2 separate regions of the Homo sapiens genome follow, and region 2 is linked to region 1. The links come from fine-mapping of genetic effects on gene expression. Tissue or cell type: sun-exposed skin. Region 1 holds a variant in brackets; the other region holds the start of a gene. All regions are shown on one strand. Distances are between the middles of the regions.

Region 1 (8,111 bases):
CAGATATGATGATGAAAAAGTCCCCCCAAAACTTTAAATATATCAAATCCAGAGCATTAACAAATAACAGAATGTGATAATAAACTGTGATTTAGTAGGGTTTTCCCTCTGTGATGCAAGAATAGTTTGAAATAGGAAGTCCATTAATATAATTAACTATATAACAGATTCAAAGGGAAAAATATAATAAAATATATTTATTTCTATAAATATTAAAATATAAAATTTGCCATTCCTTCCTGATAAAAACACATGGCAAGAAAAGATAACTCGCTTACTATGATAAAAAAGACTTTTTACACAAATCAGCAACTACAAAAACAAATATTATGCCTGGTACTAAAACCTAGAGGCTTTCTCATTAAAGTGAAGAATAAGACAAAGAAACAGTAACACTATTCAGAATATTTCACTTCTTCTTCTTCCAGGCATCTTATAGATTGCACTATTCCACCCCTTTGACATTTACATTTGAGGTGGCTTGTTTTAGCCAATAGGTTGCAGCCAGAAATGCTGTGTTTCCTTTAAGGTCAGAGTAATTATTTCTGGCTGGAGACCGCTACTGCTCCCTATTCTGGTTATAGAAGCATGTGTGCAGAAGGAGTTTCCATGGCAGGAGTAAGTCCTTACTTAATAATAACATCGAATGTGAATGGACTAAACTCTCCAATTAAAAGACACAGAGACTGGCTGAATGGATGAGAAAACAAGACCCATTGATCTGTTGCCTACTAAACACACACACACACACACACTTCGCCTGTAAAGACATGTATAGACTGAAAATAAAGGGATGGAAAAATACTCCATGCCAATGGAAACCAAAAAAGAGGAGGAGTCGCTATACTTATATCAGACAAGATAGATTTCAAGACAAAAACTATAAGAAGAGATGAAGAAGGTCACTATGTAATGATAAAGTGGTCAATTCATCAAGAGGATATAAGAATTTTAAATATATATGCACCCAACACTGGAACACCTAGATATATAAAGGAAATGTTATTAGAGCTAAAGAGAGAGATAAGCTCCAATACAATAACAGATGGAGATTTCAACACCCCACTTCCAGCATTGGACAGATCTTCCAGACAGAAAGTCAACAAATATCAGTTTAATCTGCACTAGAGACCAAATGGACCTAATAGATATTTACACAACATTTTATCCAAGAGCTGCAGAATATGCATTGTTTTCTCCAGCACATGGATCATTCTCAAGACAGACCATAGGTAAGGTCATAAAACTAATCTTAAAACATTAAAAAATTGAAATAATATCAAGTGTCTTCTCTAACCACAATGGAATAAAACTAGAAATTAGTAACAAGAGGATTTTGAAAACTATACAAATACATGGAAATATAACAATATGCTCCCGAATGACCAGTGGATCAATGAAGAAATTAAGAAGGAAATTGGAAACTTTTTTGAAACAAATGATAATAGAAACACAACATACCAAAACCTATGGGATACAGCAAAAGCAGTATTAACAGGGAAGTTTACAGCTATAACTGCCTACACCAAAAAAGAGGAAAAACTTCAAATGAACAGTCTAATGATGCATCTTAAAGAATTAGAAAAGCAAGAGCAAACTAAACCCAAAATTAGTAGAAGAAATAGTAAAGATTAGTGTGGAAATAAATGAATTTGAAATGAAAAAGCAATGAAACAAAAAGTCGGTTTTTTGAAAACTTAAAGAAAATCGACAGACCTTTAGCCAGACTAAGAAAAAAAAAGACGATCAAAATAAATATAATCAGAAATAAAAAAGGAGATACTACAAATGATACCACAGAAATTCAAAGGATCATTAGTGGCTGCTATGAGAAACTATATGCCAACAAATTGGAAAATCTAGAAGAAATAGACAAAGTACTAGATGCATACAACCTACCAAGATTGAAGCAGGAAGAAATCCAAAACCCGAACAGACCAATAACAAGTAATGAGATTGAAGCCTTAATAAAAAGTCTTCCAGTAAAGAAAAACTGGAGACCTGATGGATTCACTGTTGAACTTTACCAAACATTTAAAGAAGAACTAATACTAATCCTACTCAAGTTATTCAGAAAAATGCAGGAGTGAGGGAATCCTTCCAAGCTCATTCTGCAAGGCCAGTATTACCTTAATACCAAAACCAGACAAAGACACATTAAAAAAAATAAAAAAGAAAAGAAAAGAAAACTACAGGGCAATGTTGCTGATGAATATTGATGCAGAAATCCTCAATAAAATACTAGAAAACCAAACTCAACAATACTTTAGAAAGATTATTCATCATGACAAAGTGGGATTTACCCCTGGGATGCAAGGACGGTTCAACATATGCAAATTAATAAATGTGATATCAACAGAATGAAGGATAAAAACCATATGATCATTTCAATTGATGCTGAAAAGGCATTTGATAAAATTAAACATCTCTTCATGATAAAAGTCCTCTAAAAACTTGGTATAGAAGGAACACCCTTCAACATAATAAACACCATATGTGACAGACCCACAGCTAGTATCATACTGAATGGGGAAAAACTGAAAGCCTTTCCTCTAAAATCCTGAACATGACAAGATGTCCACTGTCACCACTGTTATTCAACATAGTTCTGGAAGCCCTATCTAGGGCAATCTGACAAGAGAAAGATAGATATAAAGGGAGTCCAAATTGGAAAACAAGAAGTCAAATTATCCTTGTTCGCAGATGATATGATGTTATATTTGGAATAACCTAATGACTCCACCTAAACAAAGAAATAAAAAAGTAATCCCAATTACAACAGCCACACATAAAATTAAATACCTAGGAGTTAACCAAAGAAATGAAAGATCTCTGTAATGAAAACTATAAAACACTAAAGAAAAAATTGAAGAGGACAACAAAAAATTGAAAAATATTTCATGTTCCTGAATTGGAAGAATCAATATTGTTAAAATGTCCATACTACCCAAAGCAGTTTACAGATTTAATGCCATCCCTATCAAAGTACCAATGACATTATTCACAGAAATAGAAAAAAATCCTAAAATTTACATAGAACCACGAAAGACCCAGAATAGCCAAAGCTATCCTACACAGAAACAACAAAACAGGAGGAATCACATTATCTGACTTCAAAATATACTACAGAGATATGGTAACCAAAATAGCATGGTATTGGCGTAACAAAAGACATATAGACCAATGGAACAGAATAGAGAACCCAGAAATAAATCCACACACCTACAGTGAACTCATTTTTGTCAAAGGTGCCAAGAACATACACTGGGAAAAAGATAGTATCTTCAGTAAATGATTTTGGGAAAACTGGATATCCATATGCCAAAGAATGAAACTAGACCTCTATCTTTCCATATACAAAAATCAAATCAAAATGGATTAAATGCTTATAAATATAAGACTTCAAACTATGAAACTACTATGGGAAAACATTGGGGGATATCTCCTAGACATTGGTCTGGGCAAAGATTTCTTAAGCAATGCCCCACAAACACAGGGAGCTAAAGCAAAATTAGACAAATGGGATCATATCAAGTTAAAAATCTTCTGTACAGCAAAGGATACAATTAATAAAAAGACAACCACAGAATGGGAGAAAATATTTGCAAACTACCCATCTGACAAGGAATAATAATCAGAATCTGTAAGGAGCTCAAACAACTATATGGGAAAAATTTAATCACCCAATAAAAAATGAGCAAAAGGCATATGAAAAACTGCTCAGCAGCACTGACCATCAGAGAAATGCAAATCAAAACTATAATGAGAAATCATCTCACCTGAGTTAAAATGGCTTATATCCAAAAGACAGGCAATAACAAATGCTGGTGAGGATGTGGAGAAAAGGGAACCATTGTACACTGTTGGTGAGAATGTAAATTAGTACAACCACTATGGAGAACAGTTTGGAGGTTCCTCAAAACACTAAAAATGGAGCTATCATATGATCCAGCAATCCCATTACTGGGTATATACCCAAAAGAAAGGAAATTAGTATATTGAAGAGATATCTCCACTCTTATGTTTGTTGCAGCACTGTTTACAATAGCTAATATTTGGAAGCAACCGAAGTGTCCATCAATAGGTGAATGGATAAAGAAAATGTGGTACATATGCACAATGGAGTACTGTTTAGCCATAGAAAGAATGAGATCTAATCATCTGCAGCAACATGAATGGAACTGGAGGTGATTATGTTAAGTAAAATAAACCAGGCACAGAAAGACAAACATCACATGTTCTCACTTATTTGTGGGATCTAAAAATCAAATCAATTTAACTCATGGACATAAAGAGTAGAAGGATGGTTATCAGAGGCTAGGAAGGGTAGTGGGAGGTTGGGCCGGGGGTAGGTAGGGATGGTTAACGGGTACAAAAAATAGAAAGAATTAATAAGATCTAGTATTTGATAGCACAGAAGGGTGAATATAGTCAACAATAACAACTGTACATTTTAAAAATAACTTAAAGTGTATAACTGGATTATTTGTAACTCAAAGGATAAATGCTTCGGGGATGGGTATTTTATTCTCCATGAAGTGCTTATTTCACATTGCATGCCTGCATCAAAACATCTCATGTACCTCATAAATATATATGCTTAGTATGTACCCACAAAAATTAAAAAATATTTAACTCTATATAACATGGAAGAAAGGAAATAAAGAAGAAAGAGAGAGAGAAAGGAAGGGATAAGGGAAGTTAGAGCACTATTAAAACTTTGCTAAGGGCTGGCAAGGCTGTGGAGAAATAGGAAGTTTTTACACC[G/A]TTGGTGGGAGTGTAAATTAGTTCAACCATTGTGGAAGACAGTGTGGCAATTCCTCAAGGATCTAGAACCAGGAATACCATTTGACCTAGCAATCCCATTACTGGGTATATACCCACAAAGGATTATAAATCATTCTACTATAAAGACACACACACACATATGCTTACTGCAGCACTATTTACAATAGCAAAGACTTGGAACCAACCCAAATGCCCATCAATGATAGACTGGATAAAGAAAACGTGGCACATATACATCATGGAATACTATGCAGCCATAAAAAAGAATGAGTTCATGTCCTTTTCAGGGACATAGATGAAGCTGGAAACCATCATTCTTAGCAAACTAACACAGGAACAGAAAACCAAACACTGCATGTTCTCACTCATAAGTGGGAGTTGGACAATGAGAACACATGGACACAGAGAGGGGACCATCACACACTGGGGCCTGTTGGGGGGTGGGGGCAAGGGGAGGGAGGGCATTAGGACAAATACCTAATGCATATGGGGCTTAAAACCTAGATGATGGGTTAAGTGCAGCAAACAACCATGGCACATGTATACCTATGTAACAAACCTGCACATTCTGCACATGTATCCCAAAACTTAAAGTAAAAACAAACAAAACAACAACAACAAAAAAAAACCTTTGCTAAGGAACAAAATAAATAAATGGACAGACGTGCCTATTCCTAGCTAGGATCTGGTGAGGTAAATTTCTCTCCAAATTATTCAGTATAGTATGTAATTCTGCAATGACAGAACAGACAATGGCTAGTTTGTGCTAAACATGATGAGAGTAAAGGGATGATAAGAAGTATTAACTTAAAAATCACTATGTATAACAATGTATAAATTTAGAAAAAGAGAGATTTATTTCCTTTTTTTCTTTTTTGGTTCCTCATCATTCAGTTGGATGAGCTTATGAGCTTTATTTCTTAAGAAGGAGATTACAACCTCCAGGCAGGAAGCACAACCACCATCTAAAAAAAGCACTTTGAGGCAGAGGCGGATGGAACAGGGATTCCTTTTGAATGGGTTGGCCAAGTATACATATTCAACAGGTTACAGGAGGAGCTATTAATATTCATGAAGGTGGTCCTCATGCATATTACACACCACCCATGTTCACTTAGGGGTGGAAGATTAACATTTAAATGTATTACAGCTAGGCCAAAAGGTGAAGCAGGGACACGAAGGCATTCCAGTGTGCAGTCTCTGTAAAACCCACCAGAACCAGTTCATAATAAGTGATCTCTCATCAGAAGAAAGTTACAGAAATCAGTCTGTTGTCCAATCAAGGCTCGTGGAACAGGGTGTCAGTTAGTGAGCATCTGGTGGTGAGTTGCAATTGTTTTAATATTGTTTATTTCAAGGCCAGTGCTTGTTTAGCTTCTAGAGAAAAAGAAAAACCTTGTAGCACTTTGCACGTAGTTTATTCTTTAACTGTAGGGTGTATGATTTAATCTTTCTCTGGCATGGCCTTAGGTCCTATTTATAATCTGGTATCTTATTTCCACAAAAAGTCCATTCTGTCAGTCATATGATATCTATTTTGACATTACTGCTGGTCAGTTGTGTCTAAACCACAAAAGGAGGCGGGTGTAACAAGGGGTGTCGGGCCTCCCATCCTGTCATGGCTGGGAACTAAATTTGTAAGGTTTCTCCGGAGTCCCCTTGGCCAAGGGGGCAGGGTCCATCCAGTCAGTTTGAGGGACTTAGGATTTTATTTTTAGTTTATAGAAGCAAGAGGATTTCTGAAGAATGTAATTATTTAACTGCAAAGCTGGGGAGAAGTAGCAAGAAAGCATTCTCTGAAAAGACGTGTCAAAAAAAAGGCCACTTTTTTCTAGAACTGTTGCTAATCATTGTGAGCTGTGTTGTTTGAGTGAGAGAAGGCATACCGATCACAGAAAGACTATATTTGTCCCTTCCACTCTCCTCCCTACAGTTGACTGAATGTTAGTAACAAAGTGACTCTGGAAGATCTGTTCCCACCATTCTGCATTTCTCCTGCAATCTTGTGGTGGATCTTGGAGAGTCACTCTTACTTAACACAGAGGCAATGGGGTTGGTAACAGGTGAAACAAGCAAATAAATTTTTTTTTGAAAAAGTATAACATGAGAGGACTTACCTACTAGGTATGAAAACACACTATAAAGCTTTATTACTATTATTGTTTTTAATGACATTTATTGAAGGCTTACTGTGTGCTGGACACTGTGCTATGTTTTACATACCTGATGTCATTTAATTATCTTCCAAACCTTATGAAGTAGATAGCATTTTTAAGACCTAATACTTAGAGGAAGAAACTGAGGCCTAGAAAAGATACATTTGCAAAAAATTAAATAGCCAGTAAACAATGAAAATATAATTCTAATCTAGACATTATAACTCTAAAGCCATTTTTATCATTACTATCAATATAGTTTTGACTACATAAAAGAGGAACAGTAGAACAGAGAAGAGTTTAAAAACAAAATAGCCATATCTATGGGATTTCACCATATGATAAAATTGACATTTACATCAATTTAATAATTATTGCTAGACAATTGGCTATTCACTGAAAAGTAACTATTATCTCTCATACCAGAAAAAGTTATAATTCAGAAATTTAAAAAAAATTAATATAAAAAGGTAGAAATAGTACTAAAAAAATATAGAACATACAGCATCTGGTGGCCATAAAAAATAAGTCAGGGACCAGGTAGGTAAAGGTTGCAGTGAGCTGTGATCAAGTTACTGCACTCTAGCCTAGGTGACAGAGTGAGACCCTGTCTCAAAAAAAAAAAAAAACCCAAAGCACCAAATTAGTGAGGGTTGGTACATGAGTGGAAGCCTATTTGCTACTTCTCCACAAAAACTGAGAATGAGTGAAAAGAAAAAGTTTTAAATTAAGAAGTTTCAAACTTTGGCTGGAGACTGTTAAAACATTCTCCAAGAAGTATGAGGAGAAGGAAATATTTATTTTCCAATGCAAATTCAATCATTTCTTTTATTATTGACCTTGTTCGATACATATGGATAAAAAAAATCCTGCATTGGTTAGAATCAAAGGACACAGTCCCTGAATGACATAATATAAGAAAAATAGGCTGGGCATGGTGGCTTATTCCTGTAATTCCAACACTTTGGGAGGCCGAGGCAGGTGGATCACAAGGTCAGGAGTTCGGGACCCACCTGGTCAACATAGTAAAACCCCGTCTCTACTAAAAATACAAAAAATTAGCCAGGCATGGTAGCTGGCAGCTGTAATCCCAGCTACTTGGGAGGCTGAGACAGGAGAATCGCTTGAACCTAGGAGGCGGAGGCTGCAGCGAGCCGAGATAGCACC
Region 2 (8,111 bases), 99 kb before region 1:
AAGAAAAATGAAAGCATATGTTAATAAAATGCGTTTTAAAGAATGCTTATAGCAGCCTTATTCATTAATAACTAGAAGCTGCCAACAACCTAAATATCTATCAACAGGAGCACTAATAAGCAAATTGTGGTATATTTACACAATGAAATACTACTATATAGTAGGCTGTTCTTACGTTGCTATAAAGAAATACCTGAGGCTGGGTAATTTATAAAGAAAAGAGGTTTAATTGGCTCATAGTTCTATAGGCTGTACAAGCATTGCACCAACATCTGCTGGGGTTCTGTGAGGGCTTCAAGAAGCTTATAATTATGGCTTACAAGAAGGTTAAGGGGAGCAACCACATCACATGATGAGAGCAGCAGCAAGAGTTGGGATTGGAGAGGTGCAACACACTTTTAAACAACAGGTCTCACATGAATTCAGACCAAAACTCACTTATCATCAAGGGGATGGTACTAAACCATTCATGAGGGATATGCCCCCATGATCTGACACTTCCAACATCAGACCCCACCTCCAACACTGGGGATTACATTTCAACATGAGATTTGGAGAGGACAAACATGCAAACTATATCAACTACTCAGCCAAAAAAAAAAAAAAAAAAAAAAACTACTAAACTATGCAACAACATGGATGAATCTCAATCTCAAAAAAAAAGAACAAACTACTAAAATATGCAACAACATGGATGAATCTCAATCTCTCTCTCTCGCTATATATATATATATATATTCATTCAAATATGTGGGTGTGTATATATATGTATATACACATATATACATATATACACACACACATGCCTATTTGAATGAAAGAAGTCAGACAAAAAGGAATATATATTGTGTGATTCCATTTATATGAACACCAAGAATAGGCAATATTAACCTCTAGTCATATAAATTAGAAAGTAGTAGTCTCTCTGTGTGTGGGCTAGGGGAGGATGGAGAGGCATGAGGGTAGTTTTGGTGAACTGACAAGCTACAGACAGATACAAATAAACACTTTGGACTGACATAAATGTTCTAAATTTTGTTTTAGGTATTATTTTCATGAGTGCATATAATTATATAATTGGCAAAAGTCATACTCTGAACATTTAATACATATGTACTTTATTGAATATAAATTATACAACCATTTAAAAGTGGCCTATAATCCTCAGGAATTAAGTAGTCACTGAAGGCATACCTTTGTTGGGAATGGCAGGAATGAAGAATACAAAGATTGTGGGGTGATTTTTCTATTTATGACTGTACTAGGATGCTTAAAGAAAAATGTGATAAGCTCAGAGGCCCAGAGAACTTCTATGATTACCTTAAAACTTTATTAATTGCTGGGATGACACATCCAAATCAAGTATTAATGCTGTGAAGAGCTAAATTACAAGGTAAGTTGAATAAACAGACTCCTCAGGTCTCTTATGTAAGAAATTAAGGCATTGATTGGGAAGGAGTTGGATCTTTAGAGTTGTGATAGAGAGGTTGGGTGAATTCGGATAGCTCTATTATCTTAATACGCAGACACTACAGAGCTTTTTGCTTTCTGAAGAACTCCTCCCTTCCTATCTATAGGGCTGGTCTTGTACTCCTTGAAAATTCTGAAGTAACTTAATCTGAGGAATTTACCTTGTGAATCAATTGAGAAGAACTGATTGTTCTCAGAACTCAACTGTTATCAGTTCTTTATACCTCTAGACTACATCACCTAGTAGAAATATAATGTGAGCCACATACGTAATTTAAAATCTTCTACTAGCTACTCTTAAAATAGTGAAAAAGAAATAGTTGTGGTTAAATTTTGGTAATATATTTTATTTAACTCAACATAAACAAAATATCATTTCTGGTGGCATTGGTGGTATAGTGGTGAGTATAGCTGCCTTCCAAAATATCATTTCGACATAATCAGTATGAAAATCAAGATATTTTATGTTCTTTTTCATATGCAAAATGTGTGTATTTTGCATTTACAACATGTCTCAATTCAGAATCATCACATTTCAAATGTTTGAAATAGCTATAGGTGGCTGGTGGCCTTTGTATTCTCCATATTGGACCGGGGTTTCTTAATGTCAGCACTGTTGACATTTTGTTGTGGAGGATGTCCCGTGCATTGCAGATGTTTAACAGCATCTCTAGCCTCTACTCACTAGATGCCAGTAGGACACTTGCCCTTCCTCTTTGGCTGTGGCAAAAAAAATGTCAAGAACCACTGGTCTAGATCTAAAGTTAGATCCCAACATGTTCCAGGGTATAATAAAAGATCTGACCTGGGAGAAGGGTTTCATACCAAAAAAGTGCAAGATTTTGCTTATTTATATTGGCAGAAGACTATAGAAAATGATAATGAATTCCAAGTGTGGCAGACCAGGGATGAAGGAATATTTTTGATGAGACCAAGATATTAATATGAATACATTTACCAGAGACCATAATTCACTGTTCTTGCTTTGAACATCTAGGAGTGGCTGTCAAGGTTTGCTCAGTTGGTTGATTGAAACTAAATAAAGTTGAGATGTTAGAAATCTCTTGATTTTAGAGGATTGAATTAAAAGACTTAGGGAAAGGGGTAACGAAGAGAGGTTGATTAATGAGTGCAGACATACAGTTAGATAGAAGAAATAAGACCCAGTGTTTGACAGATAAGTAGGGTGACTATAGTTAACTATAATCTATTGTATATTTCAAAATAACTAGAAGAGAACAATTTGAATGTTCATAGCATAAAGATAAATATTTAAGGTGATGGATATCCTGACTATCTTGATTTGATCTTTACACATTACACATTCATATAAATGTATCCAATTATCACATGTACCCTGAAAATATGTACATCTAGTATGTATCAATTTTTAAAGAAGACTTAGGGAATAGTACTGTATGAATGGATTTATCATATGTTACCCAGTCATCTCCTTTCAAAGGTGTTCTGAGAGGGCCAAAGGACCTTCTTTTTACTAAAGCATTGAGAAAATATAGGGAATGCCAGAATCCTTTAAAAGCTCTGTAGCTGCTATTCTATAAGCCTGGGGATAAAGATGCTGCCATTGCATGAAATCCCTAATTCCCTAATGGAAATAGTAAGATCCCAAAGTGATAGAGGCCAAGTGATACCACTGAGCCATCAGAGATGAGATATCTGTTGATACCATGATACCAGCAGGGTGTATCATATTGTTTGACTAAGGGGGATCTTTAGGAGTTGATAATTAATCACTGCCCCTATAATTGAAATGGATAGTCTGCTAAGATTCTACTTAATTTGTACAGCAAAAAATTTACCAGAACTAATGAAGAGACCTGAATGTCATAACCTTAAAGGAGATTTACAGCATCTTGACATTGGCTTTTTGACTCATGGCTATTATAATAGGAAGACAAAGTGGAAGCCTTTGGAACTGCCCTTATCTACTAAAAGATTAAACCAAAGGCAATACCATAGTCCTAGGGGAATTCCAGTGATTAGTGGCACTATTAAAGAGTGCAAAGATGTAAAGGTGGTGATTCTCCATCACACTTTCATTTAACCTTCTGTTTGTCCTCTGCAAACAGGTTATCTAAAATGTTGCTTTTTAATTTTGAAGTATTATTTGTATTCAAGTATCTTTATTCTATTTCATTGCCTGCTATTTTTACATTCTAGTCCCCATTTGTTGCCATGAAGATAGAAATCACAATTTCTACCCAACACTGTAGTGTTGCATCCTGCACACAAACGTACTTTAGTGAGCTCATATGTTTATGTTTATGTATCATCTATGGCTTTTCTTGGTAAGACAATGGCAGAGTTAAATAGTATCACAGAGACCATATGACCTGCAAAACCTATTAATAAAATATTATCTGGCTGTATGAGCACATTTTCATACTGCTATAAAGAATTGCCTGAGACTGGGTAATTTATAAAGGAAAGGGGTTTAATTGACTCACAGTTCAGCGTCGCTGGGGAGGCCTCAGGAAACTTACAATCATGACGGAAGGTGAAGGGGAAGCAGGACACCTTCTTCGTTAAGGAGAAGTGCCCAGTGGAGGGGAAAGAGCCCCTTACAAAACCATCAGATAGCTTGAGAACTCACTAGCATGGGGGTAAACGGCCCCCATGATTCCATTACCTTCATCTGGTCTCTCTCTTGACACGTGGGGATTATGGAACTGCCCCCATGATTCAATTACCTTCACCTGGTTTCTCTCTTGACACGTGGGGATTATGGGGATTACAATTCAAGATGGGATGTGGTCGGGGACTCAGAGCCTAACCATATCACTGGCCCTTTACTAAAAAATTTACTAATTCTGTCTCCCGCTTTAAATTATGAAAGGGACAATTACAGTACTGGTGGAAAAACATTGCTGGAGTGCTTTAGTGAAACCAATTATTTAGGTAGCAGCATGCCACGGTTATGGCTTAGTTGACAGTTACTCTACTTGTGAACTTCATAGGTTGGTGTACGATTCTTAACATGAATATTAAGTAGAGGCATTGAATGAAGATATTTTTCCAATTAAAATCTTGCTTTGCTTCTTCAGGACTTTATAAACCAGACCAGCTGGCTGTGGCACAGATACGAAAGACTTTGAGACCCTGAAGGCACCTTGCAGAACATCCTCAGGCTTCCTCATTTAACAGGAAAAAACCTGAGGCCCAGGGAGGCATCTCAGCTAAAAATACTACTATACATTTAAAAGGAGGTTTCTTCCGGTCGCAGTTGCCTTCACGTTTTCAAATCTTCTCTTTAAAAAGCAAAAGCAGGGCACAACCAGGCCAAGCGCCAGAAAACTCGGAATTGGCTTTATTTCCTTTTTTTCTAGTTGGGCTCGGTTATGATTTTCGGTAACGTACACAAATGCTGTCCTTGTCCATAAACAAACGCTTAAAAAAAAATGTTTACCCGAGAAACAAGGATAGACACGAAGCTGCCCTCCCTGCCCCGTTCCTCACCCTCTCCAATAGCTATAGGCGCTGCCCGCCGTCCCTAACCCGGACCAATCGGCAGCCTGCTGCGGGCCTGACGGGAGGGGTGGGGCCGCCGTTGCCAGAGAAGCCACTAGCCGGTTACTAGCTGCGCTTTTGTTCCACTTGAGCGGGCACTCTTCTGCGGCAAGCAGGTCTAGGAATTCGCCTGGTTCCCACCTCGCGTCCCTTGCCTTCCTTCCTAGTCTACCCACTGTAGTGCCCCCTGCGTCCCGCTCCCTCCTAGCCGACTCAGAGCACAAGAAGGATTGCCACGGTTTCCATTGCAGCAGCCGTGGCGCCTCTGACCCTTTTTTTATATCGCGGCGACGGCGGGCTGTCGTCACGACGACGTGCGGACGCAGCGGCGGGGGCGTAAGTACGCCTTTTGGGTTGGGGGCGACTTTGTGGGGAGCCTAGCTGCTGCTGGGCGTTTACCGCGGGAGCCCTTAGCGGTCTGGAGGTGAGGGCAGTGGTGGGTCCCGGAAGTAAAAGGCCCTCGCGCCCACCCAGCCCCCTCCGCGCAAACCCTCCACCTCCCTCAGGCTGACTACCTGGCCTGGGAAAAGGGCGGCGAGACTCACTCTTAGGAAGGGTGTGGTCCCCGGGACATCAGGGCAAATGTTAGCGTGAGGTGGGCTTGTGCAGAACGAAGTCCTGACCGGGCCGTTCCTGGATATGGTTGCATTTCTTTCAGAAATAGTGACCTCTTAATCATTGGGCTGGTTTTTAATCGCCCATCATGTGATATATCAGATTGTAGGAAGCCCTGGGGGCTTCGTAAGTGAGGTATATTACAGGAATCCTCAGGAAATAATTCCTTCTCCAGGATTCCTCTAGGTTCCAGCCCCTATAGGCGACCCCTGTAGTGCGGGATTGACCTAGGGTCGTGGAGAGTGCTAAAGGCCGACTTGTGTTCAGTCCCAGCTCTGCCACTGAACCCGCTGTGTGGCCTTGTCTAGGTCACTGAACCTTCCTGGATTCCTTACTGATAACTGTAACAGTAATCATCACTTTGGGGTGGTTGTAATACGAGATTAAGTAAACGCAGGGCCATTAAGGTGGCACCGAATGTAGGTGGTTAGTGAGTGGTGGTGCTTGTTGTTTACTGAGAATAACCATACTGGGGCTGCTGTTGGGGATAAAATCTATTTCGAAGACAGTTTCCTCATCACGCAACGCATAGTACGGTTTCAAGTGTTTTTGAATGAATGAGGTTCTTGGAGTTTTAAGTGCAACTGAGTTAAGGTTAAAGAAACAAACCGGGCCGGGCGCGGTGGCTCACGCCTGTAATCCCAGCACTTTGGGAGGCCGAGGCGGGCGGATCACGAGGTTAGGAGATCGAGACCATCCTGGCCAACACGGTGAAACCCCGTCTCTACTAAAACAAATACAAAAAGTTATCCGGGCGTGGTGGCGGGCGCCCGTAGTCCCAGCTACTCGGGAGGCTGAGGCAGGAGAATGGCGTGAACCCAGGAGGCGGAGCTTGCCGTGAGCCGAGATCGCGCCACTGCACTCCAGCCTGGGCGACAGCGCGAGACTCTGTCTCAAAAAAAAAAAAAAAAAAGGAAAAAGAAACAAACTGCAGAAAACCTGTCTGCTTTTGAAATTAGTTTGATATTCTGCTTATAGTAAGAATGTCATGATCATGTTTATGATTTGCTTTTTGCTTCTCTTTTTCATCTTCTTATTTCACAATGGATGTGTATTTATAGTGTAGTTTTTCTATCCCAAAAGTTCCTTGTGACAAACTTTAGAACAATGGAATTTAGTGATCTGGTCGCGGTCTGCTCTCTCTCTTTAGAATTGTAGTCTGTGCTTTTAGCTAGCTCATTCATCACTCATTTCCTTGTCCAGAACAGTTTTCATCTTTTGAATCTAAATTGAACTTATGAGTATTAAAACCTGACTGAATAAAGGCAAGTTTGTGTGTTACTTTTTGCTTTGTAGATTTTTATATTTATGTTTTAGTATCTCATGGCTTTTTTTTTTTTTTGAGATGGAGTCTCGCTCTGCCGCAGTGGAGTGCAGTGGCGCGATCTCGGCTCACTGCAACGTCCGCCTCCCGGGTTCAAGTGATTCTCCTGCCTCAGCCTCTCGAGTAGCTGGGACTACAGGTGCCCACCACCACGCCTAGCTAATTTTTGTATTTTTAGTAGAGATGCGGTTTCACCATCTCATGGCTTTTAATTCAAAACTGAGTTCCACCAATTCCTTACTTGTAATCTTGGACAAGCTATTTAACCCTTCTAAGATTTAATTTACTTATTTATAGCTTTTTAATAACAACCTTGTGAAGCTTTTGTGAGATGATGTTTATAAGGTCAGTCAGTGCTCTGCTCAGTAAATGGCAACAGCTGTCGTGTTGAAGGAAAGGAATATGCTTTATGTTTGTCTGGTACAGGATGGTGACTTTATTTGGGATTAGACAATATTCTGAACATCTTTGGCCAGGTCTTTTTCCGGGTAATTGGGCTCTATATGGACACTCAAAAGTGTCCGAGTTTAAACAGTAAATAATTTAGTCACCCTAACTTATATTTGAGAACCTAATCTATGCTCCCCACTGTGTTAGGTAATTTTTTAGGGCAGAGAGTGATGCGTATTATTTGTCCTCACAGTTAATAGCAAGTTTAAAAGAGAACTAAAATATGAGCATTTATGGAGCAGTTAAATTCTAAACTATATGATTCTGAAAATACTTTTGTTTAGAGTTCTTGATGGGCTGGAGAAATCAGGGCAACACTTTGAGAAGGAAATGGAATGTTGGCTTTGAAGTACATGCCGTGTTTACAGAACAGTCACTCTTGCTGTCAACTCTTCTTCCTATATTATCCAGTCTGCAGCCCATCTTTTAAATATACATCCTTCTTTTTTCATTGGAGAGAGGGATTACTAATTTGTTATCTAATCTAATCTCTCTGTATCAGAAAACGTTTTTTCCATTTTGGTAGCTTTTACGCATAAGATTTATTTTCCAGCTTTTTGCCTGTTTCCAAGATTCCTATCCTTTTTTTTTTTTTCATACAATTACCTCTCTAGTAAACGTTTGACTAGTGTCCAGAATAGTAGGGGGAAAAAAAGAGGATTCCTGTATCTACTTTGTGTTCCTTGCTGAATATGCCATGGTGACTTTTTTCAGTAGAAGCTGT

Evidence for each region. PIP is the estimated chance that this variant, and not a neighbour inherited with it, causes the effect.
Region 2: ODF2L starts here. The variant in region 1 is fine-mapped to the expression of ODF2L in sun-exposed skin (GTEx, PIP 0.96).

Annotation. Positions count from the first base shown.
Region 1 is chr1:86,294,735-86,302,845 of GRCh38, reverse strand. The region is part of intron 3 of LINC02795 (long intergenic non-protein coding RNA 2795); the gene reads left to right. Among named protein-coding and RNA genes, the nearest start is that of LINC02795, 21 kb to the left of the region's middle. The variant G/A (reference allele first, on the strand shown) is at 4,768.
Region 2 is chr1:86,393,256-86,401,366 of GRCh38, reverse strand. ODF2L (outer dense fiber of sperm tails 2 like) reads left to right here and starts at 5,044. Exons shown (of 17, transcript NM_001366781.1): 1 at 5,044-5,334. RefSeq lists an enhancer at 5,070-5,119.